Linked DNA regions of Homo sapiens: region 1 is linked to region 2. The links come from fine-mapping of genetic effects on gene expression. A gene starts in region 2. The other region holds a variant in brackets. All regions are shown on one strand. Distances are between the middles of the regions. Region 1 holds the start of LOC107986578 (a long non-coding RNA gene). Region 2 holds the start of CDKAL1 (CDKAL1 threonylcarbamoyladenosine tRNA methylthiotransferase).

Evidence for each region.
Region 1: its variant is fine-mapped to the expression of CDKAL1 in whole blood (INTERVAL, PIP 0.98).

The regions. Positions count from the first base shown.
Region 1 is chr6:21,226,248-21,238,961 of GRCh38, forward strand. It overlaps CDKAL1 (CDKAL1 threonylcarbamoyladenosine tRNA methylthiotransferase), which reads left to right. Exons shown (of 16, transcript NM_017774.3): 16 at 4,601-6,157. The coding sequence ends at 4,792. LOC107986578 (a long non-coding RNA gene) reads right to left here and starts at 4,812. Exons shown (of 2, transcript XR_001744021.2): 1 at 4,444-4,812; 2 at 1,557-2,581. RefSeq lists an enhancer at 3,974-5,173. The variant T/G (reference allele first, on the strand shown) is at 5,768.
Region 2 is chr6:20,527,705-20,540,418 of GRCh38, forward strand. It overlaps CDKAL1 (CDKAL1 threonylcarbamoyladenosine tRNA methylthiotransferase), which reads left to right and starts at 6,753. Exons shown (of 16, transcript NM_017774.3): 1 at 6,753-6,870; 2 at 7,647-7,690. RefSeq lists enhancers at 6,682-6,841, 6,872-6,951.

The DNA of each region.
Region 1 (12,714 bases), 700 kb after region 2:
ATTGAAATCTGATCCCTAAAGTTTCTGAACATGAAAGTTTTTTTTTTTTTTTTTTGAAATTTTGGTATCCATACTTGGTTCTGCTTTAACAGATTGATTACTTTGATAGGATTTGATAAGCTACACTTTTGAAAATTAGTAGATTATTTTTAAGAGTTAGCAAGTAAGTAGATTTAGAAATTAATCAAGGGAGCAGTGAGATTTACAAGGGAAGACAAACCCATGTTAATCAAAGTTAACACAGAATGCACGATGGGAATTTTAGTGCGCCCCTTAGTCTTTATTATAACAGGATAAATAACTCCATTTAACAGATAAATAACGCCTTTTGCGTAAGCAAAGGTCATATCCTGCCTTGTTTCAAATTTCTGTTTTTAAAAAAGCATTTCTGAGTAGAATTTGAGTTCTTAAAAATTGTCTGAGTTGATGTTCCAGCTTGTTTTTTTTGTTGTTGCTGTTTTTGTTTTGTTTTGTTTTGTTTTTGAGATGGAGTCTCACTCTGTCACCCAGGCTGGAGTGCAGTGGCGCGATCTCGGCTCACTGCAAGCTTCGCCTCCTGGGTTCACACCATTCTCCTGCCTCAGCCTCCCGAGTAGCTGGGACTACAGGCTCCCGCCACCACGCCTGGCTCATTTTTTGTATTTTTAATAGAGACGGGGTTTCACCGTGTTAGCCAGGATGGTCTCATCTCCTGACCTCGTGATCCGCCTCGGCCTCCCAAAGTGCTGGGATTGTAGGCGTGAGCCACCGCACCCAGCCCCAGTTTGTTTTAATAAGCAATAACATTATTCGAATTTGGTGTATGATACTTTGAGCGATGCAGATATGTATTGAATTTCAGGAATTGACAATCTTGATAAGGTTTTAAAGGTTTAGGGAAGGTCTGAGCCTCTGTTTACTTTCTAGAACTACGCTTGTCGTGTGTGTGTCGACTTTTTCTATCGGCTGTTTATAATCACTTCGCCTATAAGCACTTTTTATTACATTATTTTCTATTCATGATCCCTGCTTTCAACTGGTATGGTTGTACATTTACATGTTTGAGCATCTTGGACTTTATAAGATCTCATATTTCCCATATTTCTAAACTACTTTTTCTTAAGTATCTCAGTGGTAGTGACAATTGAAATGTGCAAAGCTAGCTAGCTACTGATTATTAATTACTCTGTCATCTGAGAAACTTTAAAAATATTATGTTTAAAAATAGTATCATCAAAATCCTTTTATCAAGATCTTGATTTGGTAAAAGGTGAAAATAATAAAAGGGCACAGCACAATAGAGACAGGATGCATTTACCCTCTCCTGCTCCGCGGTCACGCTCCCGCCTTGATCCTCAAGAGAGTGGCAAATCTTGTGGCTGCATATGCATGCTTCTGCTTCTCTGCAGGATGCAGGGTGCAGACTTGTCCAGCAGGCACAGGAGGAAAGCTCAGCACCAAAATACCTTTATGAATCAGTTATGTTCAAATATGTTAAACATCTGAGGGGTGGAGAGAAAAAAAGGATGCCCGAGGAAGAATGACTAAACTTAACATGACCACAAATAATCCTCTCCGGTAGTTCAGTAGGTAACTTTATTTTGAACAAAATTTTATGGCAGATGAGTTGAAAGGAGAAGAAATTTTCTGAAATTGTCATCAGAAGTCAAAGAGTTTTGCTTTTATTTTAACCCAGGCCAAGAAGGCGCAGTACCTGCACTGCTTCATGAAACAAAAAACAAAACGTGTTATCAACCCAACTAAATGCTTAAGATTTTAAGACTCACCTAGTCCTTCCCCAGGTCAGCCTGACACCTGGCCTGGCACCACTAATCATGGCACAGGTTCAGAACCAAGGTCAAGCATTCTGAACTGGGGATAGGGAAAAGGGTGGATTTTCCCTGAAGCTCGTGTAGCCAGTTTCGGGGTCTCTCAATTTGAGGGGCCCCTTCCAAGACCCTGTACCTAATTTTGTATTCATTATTTTTTTCTTAAAGAGAAGGCTTCAGGACCCACAAAATCTGGGTCCACTCCTGGGTGAAGGTATCTGTGAACCTCCTGAAGACAAGAGTGTGAGCGAGGCTGTGTGGATATGTAAATGTGCTTCCATATTTTTCTGGAAGGGTCTGTGTAGTCTTCTCAAAGCCATCTATGACTTACAAAGGTTAAAGAACTCAGGCCTCGGAGAAATTAATCAACCTCTTAATTCTGGTCTTATAACACCACACTTATAAAGTGATGGTTTAATTGCTAGAGGCAACAATTTGTGACTCAAGTAGAATAGCTTCCTGAATGTATCACAGGACACATTGATCACCAGAGACATAGATGAGAATGTTCTTGATGGTTGCTCATCTCATTGGAATACACACTCTCATATTATTCACTCGATCAGTCATTCATTCATTCATTCCTAAACACTTACTGAGTACCTGCTCTGTGACTGCAGCCTGCTAGGTTCCAAGATTTCAGAGATGAATTAGGCAGACTCGCTGCTTTTGAGGAACTCACATAGTTCCTATCAATCAATTCAGCTGAAGGACTCTGCATTCTTTCTCCAGGTTCCCACATATATGTGAGTGCTGTCCTTGAGATCTTGAGGCTATTTTAAATAGAAATGGAAGCTCTTCAGCATAAACCTCACTCCAAAATATTACGCAAAAAGCCACCCTCATAAGAGAGCTGTCTCCTGGGGATGGGGACAGGTCTTCGTGCACCACTGAGCTCCAGCTCTTGCCTCCCCCTGCCATGGGAAGGATGGTCCCATTCTGTCCAGCTGTGTGCCTCCTTACGAAGGACTCAGAGTGCAGGGAGACCAGCAGGATATCGGCCCGGATACCTGAGGAGTGCAGCAGTAAATAATGCTTCCACTGTCATTATGGTTGAGAGACTTTTCCTTGTGGCTAACAGCTGTGTTAATTCTGCTGTTAGCCTTCTACAGACAGAGCAAGAATTCTTCCCACACAATCACATATAAATAGGAGCCTGTGGAAACTGGGCTGTAGAAGTTGTTTTCATTTCCCCATTCCTATTCTTTGTGTCTTGCATTACCCAATCCTTTGAATTCAAATCCTATTGATTCTACATCAAAAGTCTGTTGTTCCCTCTGCCGTCATCCTGATAGAGGTCCTCATTATCTCCCATTTCATCTGTTGCTACAACTTACCACTGGATTTTCTACCCCATTCTCCTGCCTCCCTTCAGTCCACCCCACACATTCCTGTTCCTGTTACCTTCTGCAAAGCACCATTCCAGTGTCTCTCCTGTGCATGCTGAGATGCAGCTTCCCAAACAGAAGCCAAAGAGGTACCAGGAGGTTGCTAGAGCGCTTGGAAGGGAAGACTGAGCAAAGTACCATGGTTGTTCAAAGATACTTTGTGCTTCTGTGGATTTCCTGTCCTGTCCTGCACCGCCTCTGGGCTGCCCCTCCGCCCTAGCATTTTTCCTTCCATCTAGCATTTCTCATCTGCTCCTTCCACACCCCTCCTTCCATCTCTCAAAATGTTATTCAGGTTTCAACAGGGGAGTCCCATGTTATTGGGGGAGGCACCGATTCTGAAGCAGGTACACGAGGTGAAAATATCATCAATTGTGCTTCGAAACTAGAGCCACCCTGACAATAGCCAGGTGCTCCTCTCTCCGCTTCCCTGGACACCAGCTAAGAAGCCGGTGAACAGAAACCACTGAGAAAAGCTGCACAGTCAGGTCCCCAGCTTCTCAGCTCTGCCCAAGCAGGGTTTCCCAACCTGTTCTCTATCTGGCATGAAGAGAAAATGATGATAGTATTTGTATGGCACACAAGGTACTTTGAGGGGACTGAGTGTGGGGTTATGTGGGGTGGGTCACTCTTGGCGCAGCCCTCCTGTGGCAGCAGACCAGCTGGGAATCTTTGTCCTAGGGATGTGTTTGCTGAATCATGGCTTCCATGGTTGTTGGTTGGTTTGTTTGTTTTTGAGACAGGGTCTCACTCTGTTGCCCAGGCTGGAGTGCAGCAGCGCAATCTTGGCTCACTGTAGCCTTCACCTTCCAGGTTCCAGCAATTCTCCTGCCTCAGCCTCCAGAGTAGCTGGGACTACCGGCACCTGCCACCACACCCAGCTAATTTTTATATTTTTAGTGGAGACGGGGTTTCACCATGTTGGCCAGGCTGGTCTCAAACCTCTGACCTCAAGTGATCAGCCCGCCTTGGCCTCCCAAAGTGCTGGGATTACAGGCGTGAGCCACCACACCTGGCCCATGGTGTTTCTTTGTCATTCTTCCATTGCTGAGAAGATATGGTTGCATCTCTCTAAGAGTTAAATATGTCTGTGGTATGACTCCACTTTACACAGATTCTACCCTTCATGAATTCTGCCTTGATTTTCTATAAACACGGCCCGTCTTTCTCATACAGTTTATGTGTAGTCTGGAGTCATGAACTTGGCCTGGCCCTTCAAGGAAAGGAACTGACTCATTCATACCTACCTTGGGGCCACCTGGCCCATGGTGGGTGTTCAAACGTGTCTCTGTTGAAGGAGTACATAAAAGGCGGCACCTTCTGGAACCCATTGCTTGATTGATATCACAACAGGGCTTTCTCTGCATCTAAAAATAATTTTTTCCTCTGTTTCTCTCTTTATAGGACTTCAGAAATGGGCTTGGGAACCAGCTGAGTTCAGGATCCCACACCTCTGCTGCATCTCAGTGTGACTCAGCGAGTTCCAGAATGGTGCTGCCCATGCCAAGGCTACATCAAGACTGTGCGCTGAGGATGTCCGTGGGCTTGGCTCTGCTGGGTCTTCTTTTTGCTTTTTTTGTCAAGGTCTATAATTAGAATACAACTAATGGAAACATCTATAAAGAAGAATACATTTCTAATTAAAATCTTCAATGAACAGGAAAGCGACATCTCCATTCTCCAAGGGCAATAATTTGTACTGGTCATGCTGCCTCCTTCTCAGCCACTCTTCTTAATGAGGCTCCCCCTGTCTCACATTGAGTTGGGCCCATTGGTTATTTGACCTAAAACCTAATCACCGCTACCATAGCACATCCTTCAAATTAAACTGCTTTTGGTTTACTTTTAGCAAGAAATGCAAGCGGTTGCATTTTTTTCTGTTTGTTTCAATCTCTAATCTTTAAGTCAGAACCTAATTGTACAGTGGCTCTGGCCATCTTTTCCTCATGTGGAAGAATTTTCTATCTTTAATAAACTTTTTCTTTGTTTTTTTTTTCCAGATGGAGTTTCGCTCTTGTCCCCCAGGCTGGAGTGGTGCAGTGGCACGATCTCAGGTCACTGCAACCTCTGCCTCCTGGGTTCAAACGATTCTCCTGCCTCAGCCTCCCAAGTAGCTGGGATTACAGGCATGCGCCACCAAGCCCAGACAATTTTTTTGTGTTTTCAGTAGAGACGGAGTTTCACCATGTTGGCCAGGCTAGTCTCGAACTCCTGACCTCAAGTGATCCGCCCGCCTCGGCCTCCCAAAGTGCTAGGATTACAGGCGTGAGCCACTGCGCCCGGCCTCTTTAATAAATATTTTTAAGTGCATCTTCCCCTTCAGGCTTTGTTTGGAGTCCCAGTGCTACAAACATTGTATTTTTCACAGCAGATGTGTTCCTGAAAAGTGTATAGAAACCTGTTCTGGGAACCTGAATGCTTTTGGAATGCACGGGGAGAGTCTGCCAGCTAAAGGACTCCTGGCAACATTCTGTGAAATATGAAACTGGAAAACTGGATTTGTCGAAAACTAATTGTGCCCATTTTCTCACATTTTTGATCCATTGGGGTTTTTTTTTTGTTTTTGTTTTT[T/G]TTTTTTTTTGAGTCAAGGTCTCACTCTGTCACCCTGGCTGGAGTGCAATGGCACTATCTTGGCTCACTGCAGCCTTGACCTCCTGGACTCAAGCAGTCCTCCTACCTCAGCCTCCCTAATAGCCAGGGGCTACAGGCATATACCACCATGCCCAACTAATTTTTTAATTTTTTGTAGAGATGAGTGTCACTATGTTGCCCAGGCTTGCCTGGAACTCCTAGCCTCAAGCAGTCTTCTTGCCTCAGCCTCCCAAAGTGCTGGGATTACAGGCGTGAGCCACTCCACCCAGCCCAGATTAAATGTTTTTATTTCTACCTGCCATCATTGGTCTTTACTAAGTGAAGTGACTTCTTTCTTTAACAATAAATAGAATTGGTATACTAAGCAAATCCTATGTTTTTGAGAATTTATTTGGATTGCATAGGTACAGGAAAACCAGGTACCGTGTAGTTACCATAGGATATTTTCCATCTCGAAACCCATACCCCTCTTCAGCTCTTACATTTAACTCAAAATGTTTGTGTTTTGTGTGTCTTTTAAGGAACCCAAATTAAAATTCAGTCATGTCCTAGTTGGTAAATTATAAAATATATATGCTTTTAGTGTTAGTACATTTCTCCTGGAACTGGTATGTGCTTCTAAGAGGTGCTCACATTTAGAATGCAAAAATCCTCCTGTGCTGCTTCTAGTCCTGCAGTGAAACATCCACTTGGGAGCACCCCTCACTTCTTAGCAGGAATGAGAAGAGGACAAGAACCTACCATGTGCCTCCCTTCTTGAGCTCTACGCAGTCATTTCTTTGTTAATAAACAGTGGGTTCCAGTGTGGTGCTCATTTAACAAAAACCTAGCAGAGATAAAAATGCCATCCAAAGCCTAGAGTTGCACTAGATCAGACATAGAGAAAGCTTTACACCTGTAACTGATTGGAGACAAAAAGGATTTTTTCTACCTCCCTTTTCTCTTTCCCTACTCTTTTCCTCACTCCCTCATCTGTTTATTTCCTCCCTTCTAGCTCTATGCTGTCCTCGCCTTTTTTCATTTTTTTCTTCCTGTAAGAGAATGATACACCCAGTCATCCAAATTCCCCCCCTGCTGCTCTCACCTACCATGGCAGGGATCCTCAAGGATCGTTTCAGCTGTACAGGATTCTCCCTACTTCCTGCTGTGACTGTTATTTACCCTCAATTTGGCTGCAGCTTCACTCTGCCGTTTGACCCAGAAAGGGACCGAGGTCACTGCCCGCAGCAGACGCTGGACCTTCATGAAATCAGTCTCCATACTGGCGACCAATTGGTGAGAGGGGTAGCAGTGTTCTGGAAATCCAGGGTTTTTCTTCCCCCTGTGACCTCCATCTCTAGGGAGGGGGAGGGAGAGAGCAGAGAAGGATGCAGTGCAAGTTAAAAACAGTTTTCTTAAGCCCTGGACTCTGAATGGGGCTGAGTCTGGGAACCACGGGAGCAAGTGTGATCATGAGTAGAGCTGTTACTTTTCCAGCCTGTCTCCTTCCTGCCCACAGTGCAACTGCGCTTCTCCCGCCCCGCTGAAGTTAGGCACGAAATGTGAAATGTGAGCGGAAGGGTCACGTCCTTCTTCGGGGCAGACATGTTCAGAGCTGGTGTACGGTTTACTGTGTGCTCTTCCCACTGCTGTGGTGATCCTGGACCCATATGTCAGAATGACGCCTCCCCGACCCTGGGTCCCTGAGTTAGTACAGTTGAGTAGGGCTCCTGGCCAGCATGTGCTACATAGGCATCAGGAACCAGAAATATATTGTGGTTGTGTTAAGCCACCGGCATCTGGGGGTCGTAGCCGTAGCATTCGTAACCTGATTTATACGAAGTGTCAGCCGTGATAGGATGCTTGACCCGCAGATTGTAAATGTAATTGTTATGTTTTCTTTGTATGCTTTTGTATGCTTTGCATTAGTATCAAGGGGTGTGTGTGTGTGTGTGTGTGTGTGTGTGTGTGTGTGTACTTCTCTGCTGAGAAGGAAACCTATGAAGTGATCTTTTCAATGCTTTGGCCAATTTTTTTCTTAAACTCTTTACTAGAATAAAACATACATATGAAATGGACATAAATCATAGGGATACAGGGATTTTTAAAAACTGAGCAAGCATTGTAGCCAGCACCAGGAGGCTCCCCATGTACCCTCCTAGCCATTAAGTCTGCCCCGCAAGGAGTAACCAGTATCCTTATTTCTAACATTACAGATTGATTTGCCTGATTCTAAACTTTCTATAAGTGGAATCATGTAGTATGCACTATTTCATGTCTACCTTCTTTTGTTCTACAGTGATTGTGAGACACATCCAGATTATTGTGTGAGCAGTAATTACTTCACGTTCATTGCTGAATAGTATTTCAGTGTATGAGTACACCACATTGTTCATTCTACATTTGAGTTCTTTCCAATTTTTTGTCTATTATGAATAATGCTGCTATAAACACGTTTTGTTAAGTGTTTATGTGATGATGTGAGGAGTACATGTCTAGGGGTGGAATTGCTGGGTCATAGCATTTGCATATGTTCAGCTTAGATACTGCTAAATGGTTTTCTGAAGTGGTTGTACCAATTTACATCCCCACCAGCAGTTGACATGAATTCTGTCATTCTCCCACTATTTTTTCTCTTTGGACCTTAGATATTCTTCAGCAGACCTTGTCTCTGCTGTCTCCCTTCCACAAGTCATTCCTATTTTAATAGTAATGATAATATTGACAACCATTAACTGTCTAGTCCTTAAATGAAATGCACTGGATGTTATACTTTGCACTTAACAGGTGTTAATCAGTCCTGAAGAAAAAATTTTGAGATACGTATTGTGATTCCCATCATACTGAGAAGAAAATCTAAAACTCAAAAGACTAAGTAACTTGTGCAAGAGGCACAGAGCTCTTAAGTTTAGAGGCAGGACTGGTACACAGCCTGACTCCAAAGCATATACTCCTCTTCTGTAAACTCCTCCTGCTCCTCTGTCCCATCTTTGACTTAAACTTGACCTGTGCCAACAGATACACATTTAGGATCAATCCTGTGGATGCCTGAGCTTGGGGGCCTTCAGCCTTTCAGTCTGTGTTGTCCTGCTCCAAGAATGTGCATGGTACTTGATATACTTTTTAAATAAAGATTTACTAATCAAGCTTTTTTCTTTGCCCTGCCCCCTCCTTCCTTCCTTCTTTCTTTCCCTCCTTTCTATTGTCCCTGCTTCATCTTATCATCCCTGCTTCCTTTCTTATCATCCCAGCATGAGATAGTCAGTTTGAGAATGTAAAGAATTCTTGGGTTAAAACTTTGCTTTGTTGCTGGGAAAATGTGTCTAAACATCAGATTTCCATATGTCATTCAGTCAAAACATATACTACTTCTACTGACTTCACTCCAGGTTGAAAATTTCAGTGTATATTGTAAGATGTCATGGAGGGAGAATTAGAGTTACAAATCAAGCTTCAAGAGGGTTTGTCATCATAAAACAAACATAGGAAAAAAATGAAGAGAGAGAGGGAGGGAAGAGAAGAAAGGAGGGGAGAGAAAAGGAAGAAAAAGAAAAGGAGAAAAGATATTCTTAAGGCTTGCAGCAACAACAAAAAAGGTAATCATATGAGATGATGGGTATGGTAATTCACTTGACTGTAGCCACCATTTTGCTGTGTATATGTGTATCAATACATGTTCACCTTAAATACTCACAATAAAAAATGAATATGTACGTTTTCTAAAAGGTTTGCTGGTCCCCCCAGGCACCCCAGGATGCTGTGGCACATTCACAGGAGCACCCTGGGATTCCTTAAATTTTTGGAGGGAACACAGCAACATCTGTCAGATACCAGGCCAACTACCAGCTCAAAATAGTTCACAGTTTTCAACGTTAGATTTCACAAATTTTGATGACACCATGTCTTTATAAAACTGGATTTTCAGCAATTGCTGTGATAAAAAGCAAGTATCAAGTGAAAATCAATGTGGAACAAGAAGTGAAAATTGTGATCATAGTCCAAGGTTTGAGAAGGGGTGCTGTACCCAACAGATGCACAGCTGCCATTAATAAGTAAAATTAATATGAAATAAAATATTAATATTTTTATCTAAGTTACATGTATTATTTTTTCAAACGGTTCTCATAAGATAGTAGGATATAAATGCTTATTCAGTTGTCAGGATTACCTATTTAAACAGAAGGTTAGCTGCTGCTTTTGGCCTAGGGGTACAAACAATCAAGAAAGTTTGAAAACCTCTGCTCTATGATACAACCTAATTTAAAGGATCCATGTCAAACTTATAATCTGGAGTCCTAATCCCTTCTCAAAATATTTTCCCCTTACTTTAAAGTTAGATTATCCATAGCATGTGTTTGATAAATTTACACTGGACTTGCCGTTGAGTTTGATTTTTATGATGTTGAAACTGTAAAGGAGTTAACAATCAGAATCACTTGGATTCAGCTCTCAGTTGTTTCCAATACAAATTTGAGGCAGAAAATATAAGGAAAGACCATGAGATTTTTGACATCAGCAAAACTTTAAATTCCAGCCAGACCACTTTTTCTTTTTGAGCCACATCTCTAAAACAGGAACAAGATTCCATTGTGGGTCATTGAAAGATAAGTGAACTCATGCATATAAAATACTGTATTCTTGACACATGACATTTCCTCCTCTTTTTTGATTACTGTAGCCACTTAAAGGTGAAAAATACCTTTATAAATAAAGTTAGGTGTTTTAAATTCTGATATCAACACATGACCACCCAAAAGATTTATATATGGAATAAAAAGATTCCTACCTTGAGAGAGATAGAGTCTGATTCTAACAAATGCAGCAAAGGAAGAAAAATTCAAAGGCAATGGACTGCAGCTGTATTTGAGGAGATCAAATTAATGAATAGTGTGGAGCACAGATTTGGGTGGCCAATCTAAGATCAAGAAGGAGATTTTCCATGGCCAAAGATGAAAAGAGCAACCAGATTAATAGGGAGGCCTAGAAGTCATGCCCTCCCCCATCCTGCTTTGAGACTAAAAGGAAATGCAGACACTATTATTCTTGATTAGTTTTCTGTCAATTATTTTCTCCCAGTACTGTTTCCTAGAGTTCTATAGCCAAAATATCTCAACGGTGTAGAAGCTGAAGCAAAGGATGTCACTTGGTGTCTCATGATCTTCCTAGCTTCTGGGTATCTGAATACATTTCTGAGCACTAATGATGCAAGTTCTCAGGAAAAAAAAAAGCAGGGGGATGGAGGAGAACAACCTTGGGTCAAGGTAAAGGAAAACTTGGAGTTCAGAAAAACCTAAAGAAGTATGAGTTTTTAACTCCGAGGTTTATCTAATCTGCTTTTAATATGCCCAATTAATCACAAACCAATAGATGTTATACTAGACAGTCTGATTCCAAAGCCCAATGCCTGCTTTCACCACTGCTGTTTACATTGTACTGGGAGTTCTAGTGAGAACTATTAGACAACAAAAAGAAGTAAAGGGCATCAAATTGGAAAGGAGTAGGTAACACTATCTCTATTTGCAGATTACATGATCATATGTATAAAGCATCCCAAAGAAACCACAGGAAAGCAACTAGAGCTAATAAATGAATTTAGCAAAGTTACAGACTATAAGACCAATGCAAAAAAAGAAATTCATTTGTGTTTTTTTACACTAGCAATGAACAATCCGAAAAGGAAATTGAGAAAGCAGTTCCATCTACAATAGCAGCTAAACAAATTAAACACTTAGGAATATATCTAACTAAGGGGGTAAAAGATTTGTATGCTGAAAACTAAAAATCATTGCTGAAAGAAATTTATGAATATCTGAAAAATGGAAAGGTATCGTATGTTCATTAATAGGAAAACTTAGCATTAAGATGTTAATACTACCCAAAGTGAGCTACAGATTAAACACACTCTCTATCAAAATTCTAACAGCCTGTTTTACCAAAATGGAAAAGCCAACCCTCAAACTCATATGGAATCACAGGCAACCCCAAATAGCTAAAACAATCTCTAAAAAGTAGACTAAAACTGGAGGACTCATGTTTTCCAACTTCAAAACTTCCAACAAAGCTACAGTAACTACAACTGTGATACCTGCTTAAGGACAGACAGAGACCAAAGGACTAGAGTAGAAAGCCCAGAAATAAATTCTCACATATGTAATCAATTGATTTTCAACAAGGGCGCCAACACCATTAAATAGAGAAAGGACAGTATTTTCAACAAATGCTGTGGGGAAAACTGGATATCCATGTGCAAAAGAATAAAGTTGGACTTCACCTTATACCATGTACAAAAATTACCTCAAAATGGATCAAATACTTAAACTTGAGTTAAAATTATAAAACTCATAGAAGAAAACATTAGGGAAAATCTTCATGACATTGGATTTGGCAATGATGTCATAAATATGACACCAAAAGTACAGGTAACAAAAAAATGGACTTCATCAAAATTAATAACTTTTGTGCATCAAAGAACGTTATCAAGAAGGCAAAAGACAACCTACAGAATGGGCGAAAATGTAAATCATATATCTGAGAAGGGATTAACATCCAAGGTAATTCCTACAACTCAACAACAACTACAACAAATCACAAACACCCTAATTCAAAAATAAGTAAAGGATTTGAATAGATATTTTTCCAAAGAAGATATACAAATGGCTAATAAACACATAAAAAGATGCTCAACATCATTCATCACTGGGGAATTGCAAATTAAAATTATGAGATATTATCTCACCCATTAGGAGACTGCTATTTAAAAAAATAGAAAATGGTAGCTCTGTTTAAGTTCTTTGAGAAATCTCCAAACTGTTTTCCACAATGGCTGAACTAATTTACATACCCACCAACCAGAGTATAAGTTTTCTCTATGTTCTTTGCAGTCTTGCCAGCATCTGTTGTTTTTTTTTGACTTTTTAATAATACCTATTCTGACTGGTATGAGATGG
Region 2 (12,714 bases):
CTGGCTAACACGGTGAAACCCCGTCTCTACTAAAAATACAAAAAATTAGCCAGGCGTGGTGATGCATACCTGTAGTCCCAGCTACTCGGGAGGCTGAGGCAGGAGAATTGCTTGAACCTGTGAGACGGAGGTTGCAGTGAGCCGAGATTGTGCCACTGCACTCCAGCCTGGGCAACAGAGCGTGACTCTGTCTCAAAAAAAAAAAAAAAAAATAGCTTCAATCTCAGGCCGGTGCTCTCCTTGTGGTAGTCCTGGAAGCTTCTGCCTCAGAATTTCACAGTTGACCGACAACCCCGAATTCACGCTGGCCTGGTGTTGGTTGCATTCCCTGTGATGTTCTCATTTCTCTGGCTTGGGCTACAGGGCACTTGTACAACCCCCAAAACACTTGTACTGAGAGTGGGAGAGTGAACAGATAAAATTAATTATAGAATTGAACCAAACATATCTGTGTAAGTTGATAGAGTAGAATAGATGATAGTAAAGCTGAAAGAGGAGGTTCAAGCCTGTAATCCCAATATTTTGGGAGACTGAGGCGGGAGGATCACTTGAGCTAGGAGTTTGAGACCAGCCTGGGTAACAGCAAGACTTTGTCTCTACCAAAAATTAAGAAAATTAGCTAGGATTGGCGGTGTGCACACCTATAGTCCCAGCTACTTGACAGGCTGAGGTGGGCAGGCCGCTGGAGCCTGGGAGGTCGAGGCTGCAGCAAGCCGTGACAGCACTACTGCATGCCAGCCTGGGTGACAGAGCCAGACCCTGTCTCAGAAAAAAAAAAAAAAAAAAAAAAGTTAATAGAAGTATAGCACTCTGACCCCTAGTGGTTAAATTATGCAGAGAAAAATTCAGGACTTGTCCAAAGACAACAGGAGGTTGATTTATTTCACATTATGTTCCTGTATGATCTTTTTATCAGTTTATTTAAGAGCATCAGCTTTCTTCCCTTTTATTCTCCACATTGAAGTATCCATCCATTTGGGGCAATTTTTCCTTTCACATATATCTAGTATTTCTCTCGCCGCCCGCCCCCCCCAATTCCTCTGCTGTTACCATATTTCTTCTTGGGTTCATCCAACACCTGAAAAATCTTCCTAAAAAACTGTTCAGTTGGCCAGGCACAGTGGTTCAGGGCTGTAATCCCAGCACTTTGGGAGGCCGAGGCGGGCGGATCACCTGAGGTCAGCAGTTGGAGACCAGCCTGGCCAACGTGGCAAAACCCTGTCTCTACTAAAAATACAAAAATGGGCCAGGCGCGGTGGCTCAGGCCTGTAATCCTAGCACTTTGGGAGGCCGAGGCAAGTGGATCACCTGAGGTCAGGAATTTGAGATCACCCTGGCCCATGTGGGGAAACCGCGTCTCTACTTAAAAAAAAAAAAAAAAAATAGGCGGGTGTGGTGGTGGGCGCCTGTAATCCCAGGTACTCAGGAGGCTGAGGCAGGAGAATCACTTGAACCTGGGAGGTGGAGGTTGTAGTGAGCCGAGATCACACCACTGCACTCCAACCTGGGTGACAGAGCAAGACTCCATCTCAAAGAAAAAAAAAAAAAAGATAGTAGAAGTATAGCACTCTGACCCCTAGTGGTTAAATTATGCAGAGAAAATTCAGCATTTGTCCAAAGACAATAGGAGGTTATTTCACATCATGTTCCTATATGATCTTTTTATCAGTTTATTAAAGAACATCAGCATTCTTCCCTTTTATTCTCTACATTGAAGCACCCATCCATCCGGGGCAATTTTTCGTTTCTCATAGATCTAGTATTTCTCTTTTTGCCCCCCTCTATTCCTCTGCTGTTACCATCTTTCTTCTTGGGTTCATCCAACACCTGCAAAACTTTCCTGAAAAACTGTTTAGTTGGCCAGGCACAGTGGTTCAGTCCTGTAATCCCAGCACTTTGGGAGGCCAAGATAGGCGGATCACCTGAGGTCAGGAGTTCGAGACCAGCCTGGCCAACATGGTGAAACCCCGTCCCTACTGAAATTACAAAAATTGGCTGGGCACGGTGGCATGCTCCTGTAAAAAAAAAAATTAAGAGCACTTAATAGTCATACTTTTCACTTTGCTTATATGTAGCTTATATATATATAAATATAAAAATCTGTTTTAACTCTCATTCTACTAAATTCACCTAATGTTCTACATAGAAAATTTCATGTATATTGTTTATCATCTTTCAAGAGTGAATTAAGCACATGAATATTTTCTCATGAAAAGGGATATTGATTGGTACAGATGTGTATGTATAATGGCTAGTTGCTCAGATCATCAACTAAATCTAAAACATGTGTTCCAGCTGGGCTGGTGGCTCATGCATGCAATCCCAGCGCTTTGGGAGGTTGAGGTGGAGGACTGCTTGAGGCCAGGAGTTCAAGACCAGTCTGGGCAACATAGTGAGACTCTGTTGCTGCAAAAAGAGTTTTAAAATTAGTCGAGCGTGGTGGCATGCCCCTGTAGTTTCAGCTACTTGGGAGGCAGAGGTGGGGGGACTGCTTGAGCCCAGGAGTTCAAGTTTCCAGTGAGCTCTGATGGTGCCACTGTTCTCCAGCCTGGGTGACAAAGCCAGACCCTGTCTCCAAAACATAATCTTAAAAAGCAGTTCCCAATTCTTAATTTTAATTTTATTTATTTATTTTTGAGAGAGGGTCTCATTCTGCTGCCTGGACTGGAGTGCAGCGGTGTGATTTCGGCTCACTGCAAACTGGACCTTCTGAGCTCAAGTGATTCTCCCACCTCAGCCTCCCGAGTAGCTGGAACCACCATGTCCGGCTACTTTTTTGTTTGTTTTGTAGAGACAGGGTCTGGTCATGTTGCCCAGGCTGGTCTCAAACTCTTGGGCTCAAGTGAAACAACTGCCTGTGCCTCCCAAAGTGCTAGGATTACAGGCATGAGCCACCGTGCCTGGCCCCAGATTTTTATAATTTTCATATTTTATTCTTTATTGATTAGTCACTGAGAGGGTAAGAATTGTGTAACTTCTTTCTTGTCCATATTTTCTCTTCAATTTTTACTGTGAAGGCCAACATAAAATATTTAAGGCAAACAGATTTTTTTTTTTTTTTTGAGATGGAGTCTCACTGTGTCACCCAGGCTGGAGTGCAGTGGCGCGATCTCGGCTTACTGCAACCTCCACCTTCCAGGTTCAAGCGATTCTCCTGCCTCAGCCTCCCGAGTACCTGGGACTACAGGTGCCTGCCACCGCGCCCGGCTAAGTTTTGTATTTTTAGTAGAGACGGGATTTCACCATCTTGGCCAGGCTGGTCTTGAATTTGTGACCTCGTGATCCACCTGTCTCGGCCCCCTAAAGTGCTGGGATTACAGGCATGAGCCACTGTGCCCGGTCCAGGCAAACAGATTTTATTCCACTTTTCCTTGATCACTCTTTTGTTTTTTCTCTCCAATGCTTTTTCTCTATTTGAAATTTTGCACTATTGTTGCTTTCTTCTGAAGTATTCATATAGAGTTGTTAAAACAACTGAAGTCAGACTGCCTAAGCTTTAGGTTTCTTCTCTGTTAAAAGAGATAACAAGATAATAATAGCACTCCTCATTTATAGGGTTACTTATGGGTGGTTATTGGCACACATTTATAAGTGTTTGAAAAAATCTTAGCTTTACTATTATTTTATAGATTTACTTGCATTTTTAATGTTCTTGGTATACACCAATTGGTTTGTTTACTTATTACCAAATATTTATAAAGCATTTAGTGTTATATTGTTGGCTGAAAAAACAGGAACAAAATAGGATGGTGTATATTTATGAAGCTTAACTCTAATTTAAGAAACAAAGCATTATTTTTTTTTTTCTTTGAGACGGAGTCTCACTGTGTTGCCCAGGCTGGAGTGCAGTGGCGCGATCTCAGCTCACTGCAATCTCCGCCTTCCAGGTTCAAGCGATTCTCCTGCCTCAGCCTCCCGAGTAGTTGGGACTACAGGCTCATGCCACCATGCCTGGCTAATTTTTTGTATTTTTAGTAGAGACAGCGTTTTACCATGTTAGCCAGTATGGTCTTGATCTCCTGACCTCGTGATCCGCCCACCTTAGCCTTCCAAAGTGCTGGGATTACAGCCGTAAGCCATCGTGCCTGGCCTTTTTTTTTTTTTTTTAATCTTTTTGAGATGGAGTTTCGCTCTTGTTGTCCAGGCTGGAGTGCAATGGTGTAATCTCCGCTCACTGCAACCTCCACCTCCTGGGTTCAAGAGATTCTCCTGCCTCAGCCTCCTGAGTAGCTGGGATTACAGGCATATGCCACCACACCCAGCTAATTTTGTATTTTTAGTAGAGACAGGGTTTCACCATGTTGGTCAGTCTGGTCTTGAACTCTTGGCCTCAGGCGATCCACCCGCCTCGGCTTCCCAAAGTGCTAGGATTACAGGCGTGATCCACTGCACCCGGACTTACTGGTTGCTTTTCAAAGGTTGTACAGATACTATAAATATATTTAACCAATACTCTATTGAGGAGGAGCCGGAGAGGGTTTCCAGTCTTTTGCTATTGTAAGCAATGCTTAAAAAAATACTCTGGAACATAGGTCATTGTAAGCAATGCTTCAAAAAATACTCTGGAACATAGGTCATTGTAAGCAATGCTTCAAAAAATACTCTGGAACATAGGTCATTATGTATATTTCTGTAAGATAAATTCCTAGAGGTAGGGTTACTGACTTCAAAGGATTTAGACTAAAGGTGCTTAAAGAGAGAGGTTTCACCTGTTAGTTAGTTTTTGTAGCCAAAACTTGAAAACATCCTTTCTTCCTCTTTTTTCGTACCTATCAATCACCAAGTCTTGCTGCTGTTACCTCCTCAATTTGTTTAAATCTGTCCTTCCTTCCCATTCCTCCCAGCCAACAACTCAATTTAGGCTTTTACTATTTCTTCATGTCTGAAATATCGTCCTCAAACCCATTGTCCTGAGAGAATAATCTGCTCGAACACATTCATGTTGCCTACTACATACATCCAGGATTAAGTCTAATGCCTTTGAATACACAAGGTTCACCTTGATCTAGTCCCTGTGCTTCCCTTTCTCTGGTAGACTTCTCCCATCACCAGCTTCACTCTCTTTGCTTTTACACTGTGGAATAATTCATCATTTCAGGCCTCCTTGCTTTTGCTCTGGCTGACTCTCCAGCTTGGAATGCCTTCATCCATTTCCCTTACTTCACCTTTGTGTTCCTGTGCATTCATCTTTCATAGTGATTGCTATTCTCTACTGAAATGAATTTTTTCAAAATAGCCTGCAATTGCAATAGGCAGTACTTTTTTTCTTTCTTTTTAGCTCTAGCATCTATCACAGTGCTTGTGGTCATGGGGTACATACTCAGTAAAATATCTTTTACTGAACTCAACTAGATCTTGGGGGAAAAGGGGTGGAGTCATTCATTCATTCATTCATTCATTCAACATATGTTTATTGAGAAGCTATAAACATAGGCACAAGGTTATGTGCTAGGTAGTGCGATTACAACCAAGAAGATAACCCAGGGCCTACTTTTGGTCTAGTGAAAGAGATGGAATTAGATGGGTATGGTGGTGTGCACCTGTAGTCCCAGCTACTTGGGAGGCTAAGGCATGAGAATCTCTTGAGGCTAGGAGGGAGAGGTTGCAGTGAGCTGTGATGGTAACACTGTACTCCAGCCTGGGTGACAGAAGAAGACCCTATCTAAAAAAAAAAAAAAAAAAAAAAAAAAAGTAGGGCAACATAAATACACAATTTTAATTTAGGTGGGTAAAGACAACAGTGGACCCCAGGGCACAGTTTAGATTATTTTATGGATATGGATAAACAGAGAAAAGGGTGGTTTTTTTTTTTTTTTTTAAATCTATTTTAGAGACTGGGTCTCACTGTGTTGCCCAGGCTGTTTTCAAACTTCTGAGCTCAAGTGATCCTCCCACATCAGCCTCTTGAGTAGATGGATGGCATTTTAATTAGATGAAATTGTACTAGGAAAGGCATTTGCAAAACAAAGTAATTGCCCCAAATCACTATGAAACCCTAAGTCAGGCATAAAACTCACGATTTCTGACCCTTCTTCATGGCCTATTGCCTCCTATTACCTTTACTTTTTCAAGTAAAGATATTCTTCTGGTAAACACATGGTCAAATACAGTGTCTTGGGTAACGAATAGTAAAGTGAGATAACATATGTAGAGAAAGCGGGTGAGAATCCGTACTCCATAAAAGTATTTTCTTTCCATAGGTGTCTGCTAAACTGCCATCTAAGTTTTCCAAAACAAAAAACAAAAACACTTGTGTGGTGCTCAATGATGTATATTAAGTGAAACCTACCAACTGACCTTTATCCTTTCCTTCCTGTTTTTTTAATATTAAAGAAGAGACCTCTTTTCACAAATGATTGAGGAGGCTAGTAAAATGCAGTGAAAAGAGCAAGTTCTTTGGGAGTCAGACAGCATCGGATCCAGCCCAGAGCGCAGCACGACTAGTAGAGTAACTTAGATTAAGTCCTTAAACTTCCAGTGTCCTCTTTTGTAAACTGGGAATAATAATAATAATAAATAAATAGTGAATAATATTTATGCAAAGTACTTAGCACAGTGTCTAACACATAAAAGCTTAGGAGAAGTTGGCTATTAAGCATTTCTAGGAACCCGAGGACTCAGGGTTGTTATTTTAGTTCTTGGAATCAAAGGAACTTGAAGCGTAGTCATTCCTAAACTAAGTTAAACCAGAACTAGCGCTTTCAGCAATGATGTAATTTGATCTCTTCGGGCCACCGTCGCTGAGCATGCGCAAATAAACGTGGCGGGACGTATGTGTCATGGCGCTCTCCATCTAAAGTCTGTGCAGCTTCCGGAGAGTGGCGGGTTGATTTTCTCACTTTGGACTGGTTTTTACTTCCCGACTTCTGGGTAAGGGTGGCCGATGGGTCCATGTGGGGCAGAGTGTGGCCACAGCTCCTTTTATGGCCAAGCCTTGTTTCTCCAGTTTCAGTTTTTCTTGGGCTGTTTGCAAATTTGTTTCGCAGTTAAAAGGGGATTTGCCAGCTGGGATGGGGGAATTGGGAGGCAGATGGGGCTTCCAGGAGCGAGGATAGGGTCGTTGGCCTCAGGTGCCGCTCTCCAGTTAGGAGTATTTTAGGCACCTCGTTCCTTATTGTCAGGTTTAACTTCATTTGTTCTCCCACTTTATACCTTAGTGAATTTGTAGATGTGACAAGGCTTTCGCAGTTATATAGCTTTCCCAGATCAGTATGTTAAGAATTTAAGCAGAAGTTATTGAGAAAAGCAGGTGTCTTGCTTTTTCACTTTTCGTTCTTCTTTGCTCATAAAACCTTTTTCTGAATCTCGGGACGACAGTTATCTTTCGGATGGAACGTGATCTGGATGTCTATCTACCTTATTGACTTAATCCTGTTTTGTAGTGGTTGGTTACTCGCACTATGCAGACGTGTTGCGGTGCTGAATACAACATTTATTACTAAAGCCAGACACTGGATCACCGTCACGGCAGATGTCAGCACACCTGTTGTAATCAGTAAGAAGTTACAAGTAGTATGGAGCATCATTAATCCTGCTGTATAAAGCAGTCTTTTATGGAGTCTGATTCCTTTTAAGTAAAGAATCCTTACAGTGGTTTTGTGAACTTTTTGGGTGCTTACTTTTCCTAATCAATTTTTATTTTCCAGACTCATCTTTCAAGAGGACTTTAGACTAATTGCAGATAATTAAGGTACTGATTTATTTTAAACCTTTTATGTTTGAGTGCTGTGCGTATTTCTGCATGTTAGAAAATGCAGAGAGGTAGCCTAATGTTTTAGCTATTTGCCACTATCATGTTATGGAAACATTGTGCTTTACATAGCATTAAATCGAAGAGATATTTTCATTTATTTTACTTAACCTTTCATTTTCATTCACCAGCATTGACCATGTCCACTTTTTTGAGATGCCCTTTTCATTTGCCTTCCATGGCCCATGGATTTTTTTCCTTGTCTGGTGGCTGCTTCTTGGAATCCATTATAAGCTGATTTTCCTTTATCTGGCAGTTAAATTTGGAGTCTCTCAAGTCGTGGTCTTGTACCTTCTCCTACCTCTGTTCTCTTTTTCTTCCCCTCTGGGTGATGTAATCCACATGCCTGTCAACAGTTATTTGTCTTTTTGATTCTACCCATCCTAATGGGTATGAAGTGGTGTATTATTGTGGTTTGGATTTCCATTTCCCTGATGGCTCATGATGTTGACATCTTTTCATGTGCTTATCAGCCATTTGTATGTGTGTGTTTTTGAGACACGGCTTCCCTATGCCACCCAGGCCAGAGTGCAGTGGCTCGATTACGGCTCACTGCAGCCTTGACCACCTGGTCTCAAGTGATCCCACTTCAGCCTCCCAAGTAGCTGGGACTACAGGTGCATGCCACCATGCCCGGCTAAATTTTACTTTTTTTTTTTTTTTTGTAGCGATAGGGTCCGTGTTGCCTAGGCTCTGGCCTTGTACTCCTGGCCTGAAGTGATCCTGCCACCTTGGCTTCCCAGTGTTGGGATTATAGGCATGAGCCTCTGCACCTGGCCCATTTCTGTATCTTCTTCATCTAATCTGTTTTTCCTTTTGTTGCTTGTGCTTTTCATTTCTTAGCTAAGAAAGAAGGGCCTACTCTAACATCATAAAGATTTGTGCTTATGTTTTTTTCTAAGAGTTTCATAATGTTAGCTCCTAAATTTAGGTCTATGATCCATTTTCGGTTAATTTTTGTATATGATGTGAAATGTGAAATAGGGCTCCAACTTTATTTTTTACATGTTGCTATCCAGTTATCCCAGTGTCATTTGTTGAAAAAAAAACTACGCTTTCCCCCTTGAATTGTCTAGGTTATGTATATTTGACATACATTCTAGGTGGTTTTTATGAAAGAATAATTCTGGGACAGTGATTATCAAACTTTAATTCAGATCAAAATCACCTAGAGGGCCTGTTAAATATTGCTAGGTTTTACTCAAAATATCTGATTTAGTATGTCTGGAGTGGAGTTCAAGAATTTTCATTTCTGGCTGGGCATGGTGGCTCATGCCTGTAATCCCATACTTTAGGGGCCAAGATGGGAGGAGTTTGAGACCAGCCTGGACAACAAAGCGAGACCTTGTTTTTACAAAAAAACTGAAAAAGAAAAAATGTTCATTTCTAACAAGTTCCCCATGATGCTACTCCAGCTGATGTGGAAACTACACTTTGAAAACCACTGGACATTGCTTTGCAACTGTGGCTGTACACACATGAGAATGACTGGAAAGTTTTTAAAAGATATTGATGCCCAGGCTCCATTCTCAGAGATTCATTCAGCTATCTTGGGGCTTAGTTGGGAATTTTCTTTTTTTTCTTTTGTTTTTGTTTTTGTTTTGAGACAGAGTCTCGCTCTGTCGCCCAGGCTGGAGTGCAGTGGCGTGATCTCGGCTCACTGCAAGCTTAGTTGGGAATTTTCAAAAGCTCTTCAGGTGAATAGAATGAGTGTTGAAGATTGAGAACCATTACTGTGGAATCGTGGTTCTTAATTAGGGATCTATAGTGGAATTACCTGGACAGTTTCTATGTTCACATACTTCAGTTCTACTCTTGGAGATTCTAATTCAGAATGGAACCTGGAGATTTGATATGATGAAAAGCTTCCCGCTGGGTGCAGTGGCTCACGCCTGTAATCCCAGCACTTTGGGAGGCCAAGGCAGGTGGATCACCTGAGGTTGGGAGTTCAAGACCAGCCTGACCAACATGGTGAAACCCCGTCTCTACTAAAAATACAAAATTAGCTGGGCGTGGTGGCAGGTGCCTGTAATCCCAGCTACTCGGGAGGCTGAGGCAGGAGAATTGCTTGAACCCAGGAGGCACAGGTTGCAGTGAGCCGAGATCGTGCCATTGCACTCCAGCCTGGGCAGCAAGAGTGAAACTCTGTCTCATAATTACAAAAAAAAAAAAAAAAAGCCTCCCTAATAACTCACCTATGTAAGTAACCACTGCTCTAGGATATTGCATCCTCCTTCTTCCTATCATTTTGAGTATTTTCCTTTTCACTGACTCTATTTTTATTCCCTTTATCAAATTTGATTTCCTCTACCTTTGAGAAAAATTTTTAATGATCCTTTTGCTCCATTTAGCTATTACGCTGCTTTCCTTTTATTCTCAAACTTTCATTTCCATATGATTTAATTAAAAATTTCTGAAGGCTAAACAATTCCCTCTATCAGTCTATCAGTTTGTTCAAAGTAAAACCTTTAGCTTATTAATAGTGATGAGTGAGATTATTTAGGTACTTATGATATACAGCCAGGTTTATGCTACATAATGCTGATATGCAGCGTTATATTTATCTTTTTTGAGTGAATATCTCCAAATGAAATTGCTGGCTCGAAGGATATACATATGTTTGGTATAATTGTCAGGTTGCCCTCCAGAAGGGGTGTACCAGTTTTTCTGTGCTTTCAGCTAACAGAGTTTTTGTCAGCTTTGTATCAGTGAGGCAGCTGAAAAATAACTTATTGTTTCAATACTTGTTGTTAGTGTGGTTGAGCATTCTTTCCTCTTTTTTTTTTTTTCTTTTCTGGGTATTTGTATTTCTTAAGTGAACTGCCTGTTTTTCCTTTACGCATTGTTTTCTGGAATGTGGTTACTTATTAGTGTCACATTAGATTCTTGCATTGTTTGTACTTTGCCAGTGAGGCAAAGCCATAGTGGGAAGAGCATGGTATTGAGAGGATGCCAAGGTTCTGATTTCTAGCTCTATCAATGTACAAATCCTTTTGCTTCAGTGGACTCCAGCTCTGTAAGATAAGAAGCTTAGCAACTTCTGCTTCTCTAACTCTAATGATATGGGATGTCTATTGCAGTGGATTCCTTTCATTCCTCTTTTTCCTTTCTATTTCTCTTCAGTGGATCCATACACACTTGTATATGGGATGGCAAAATTGTGTAATTAAAAAATATGGCTTTTAATTAATGTTATTTAATTATTCATGATCTGTCAGTAGTTCTTCCGCATTCCAAAGGCACTACCTGGTCCTAGCCTCTCTCATTTAATTATTTCATAGAAGAGTGGTGATAGAAGAAATCCTAGGGGTTGGGCATTTACTTCAGCTTCCCACCCAGTGTAGAATTTCCTGCTGTGTCATAGAAAGACTAGCTAAATTCAACTTAAGCATTGTGTTCATTCATTTAGTCAGTAACTATTGTGTGCCTGCTATGTGTCAGGCATTGTTAGAGGTGTTGTAGAGACAGTACTGAAAAAGAGATGATGCCTTTGTGCTTAACAAGCTTACATTGTAATGAGGAAGATACAATTATATATGTGGTGTCAGGTAGGTAAGCACAATGAAGAAACATGAAACAAAAGCAGGGTTAGAAGCAGTGAAAGTGTGGGCATGCTTGGGCAGCGTGGTTATTTTAGATAAGGTAGTAGGAAAGGCCTCTCCGAGGAGATGTTGTTTGAGTGAAGAAGTGGGTGGGAAGACATACTTATCTGGGGGCTGATATTCTGGCAGAGGAATAGCAATTATGAAGGCTCCCGAGTCAGAAACTAATTTGGCATACTCAGAATATCTATATCCATATATTGCCCGACTGTGTAGTCTGCAGTAAAAGTATTTATTGAGAACCTGCAATGTGCTAGACATAGTTCTAGGCACCTGGGATAAAACAGTGAACACCTCACACGAAAACCTTTACCCTCACGAAGTATGTATTCTAGTAAGATAAACAGTTAAAAAATTATTAAAACATTTTAAGCAGATGATTAAATGCTACAGTTTAAAAAAAGGCAGGAAAGGGGCATAGGAAGAGGGTGTGTGGTGAGGTGGGGGTGTTGGTTGGAAAGTCCTCTCTTGTTACACTTGAGCAAAGTCCTTAAGGGCTTGAGTGAGTGAGCCATTCAGGTGTCTTAAGTAAGAGCATTCCAGGCAAGAATAAGACTGTGAAATGAATGCATATCTAGTGGGTACGAAATAACAAAGCCTGCATGACTGAGGGGAGCGTGGTAGGAAGTGGGGCCAGAGATGCAGCAGGAGGCTGATTATATATGTCATTGCAGATCTTTGTAGTGATTTTGGCTTTTTACTCTGATATGGAATACCACTGGAAGGGTTTGATTGAGAAGCTTGAGATGAACTTAGGTTTTAAAGGGATCCCTGACTTCTGTGCTGAAAATGTTCTTGTAGAGTTTAAGGATAGAAGCAAGGATATTAGGGATTGCAATAATCCAGACAAGAGGTGATGTTGGTTTGGACCAAGAGTGTAACAGTGGGTATGGTCACAAATAGATTCTGAATATATTTTGAAGGTACAGCCAACAGGATGTTGTTGATTGATTGGATTTAGGGTGACAGAAAGAGGGGAGTGCAGGATTTTTGGCCTGAGCAGTAGAAGATTGGGATTGTCTTTTTTTTTTTTTTGAGACAGAGTCTCACTCTGTTGGCCGGGCTGGAGTGCAGTGGTGAGATCTTGGCTCACTGCAACCTCTGCCTCCTGGGCTCAGGCAATTCTCCTGCCTCAGCCTCCCAAGTAGCTGGGGTTACAGGCGCTCGCCACTATGCCTGGCTAATTTTTTGTATTTTTAGTAGAGATGGGGTTTCACCATGTTGGACAGGCTGGTCTTGAACTCCTGACCTTGTGATTCACCCACCTCGGCCTCCCAAAGTGCTGGGATTACAAACATGAGCCACTGCGCCCAGCCAGGATTGCCATTAAATGAAATGGGAGAAGTTGTAAGAGGATCTGGT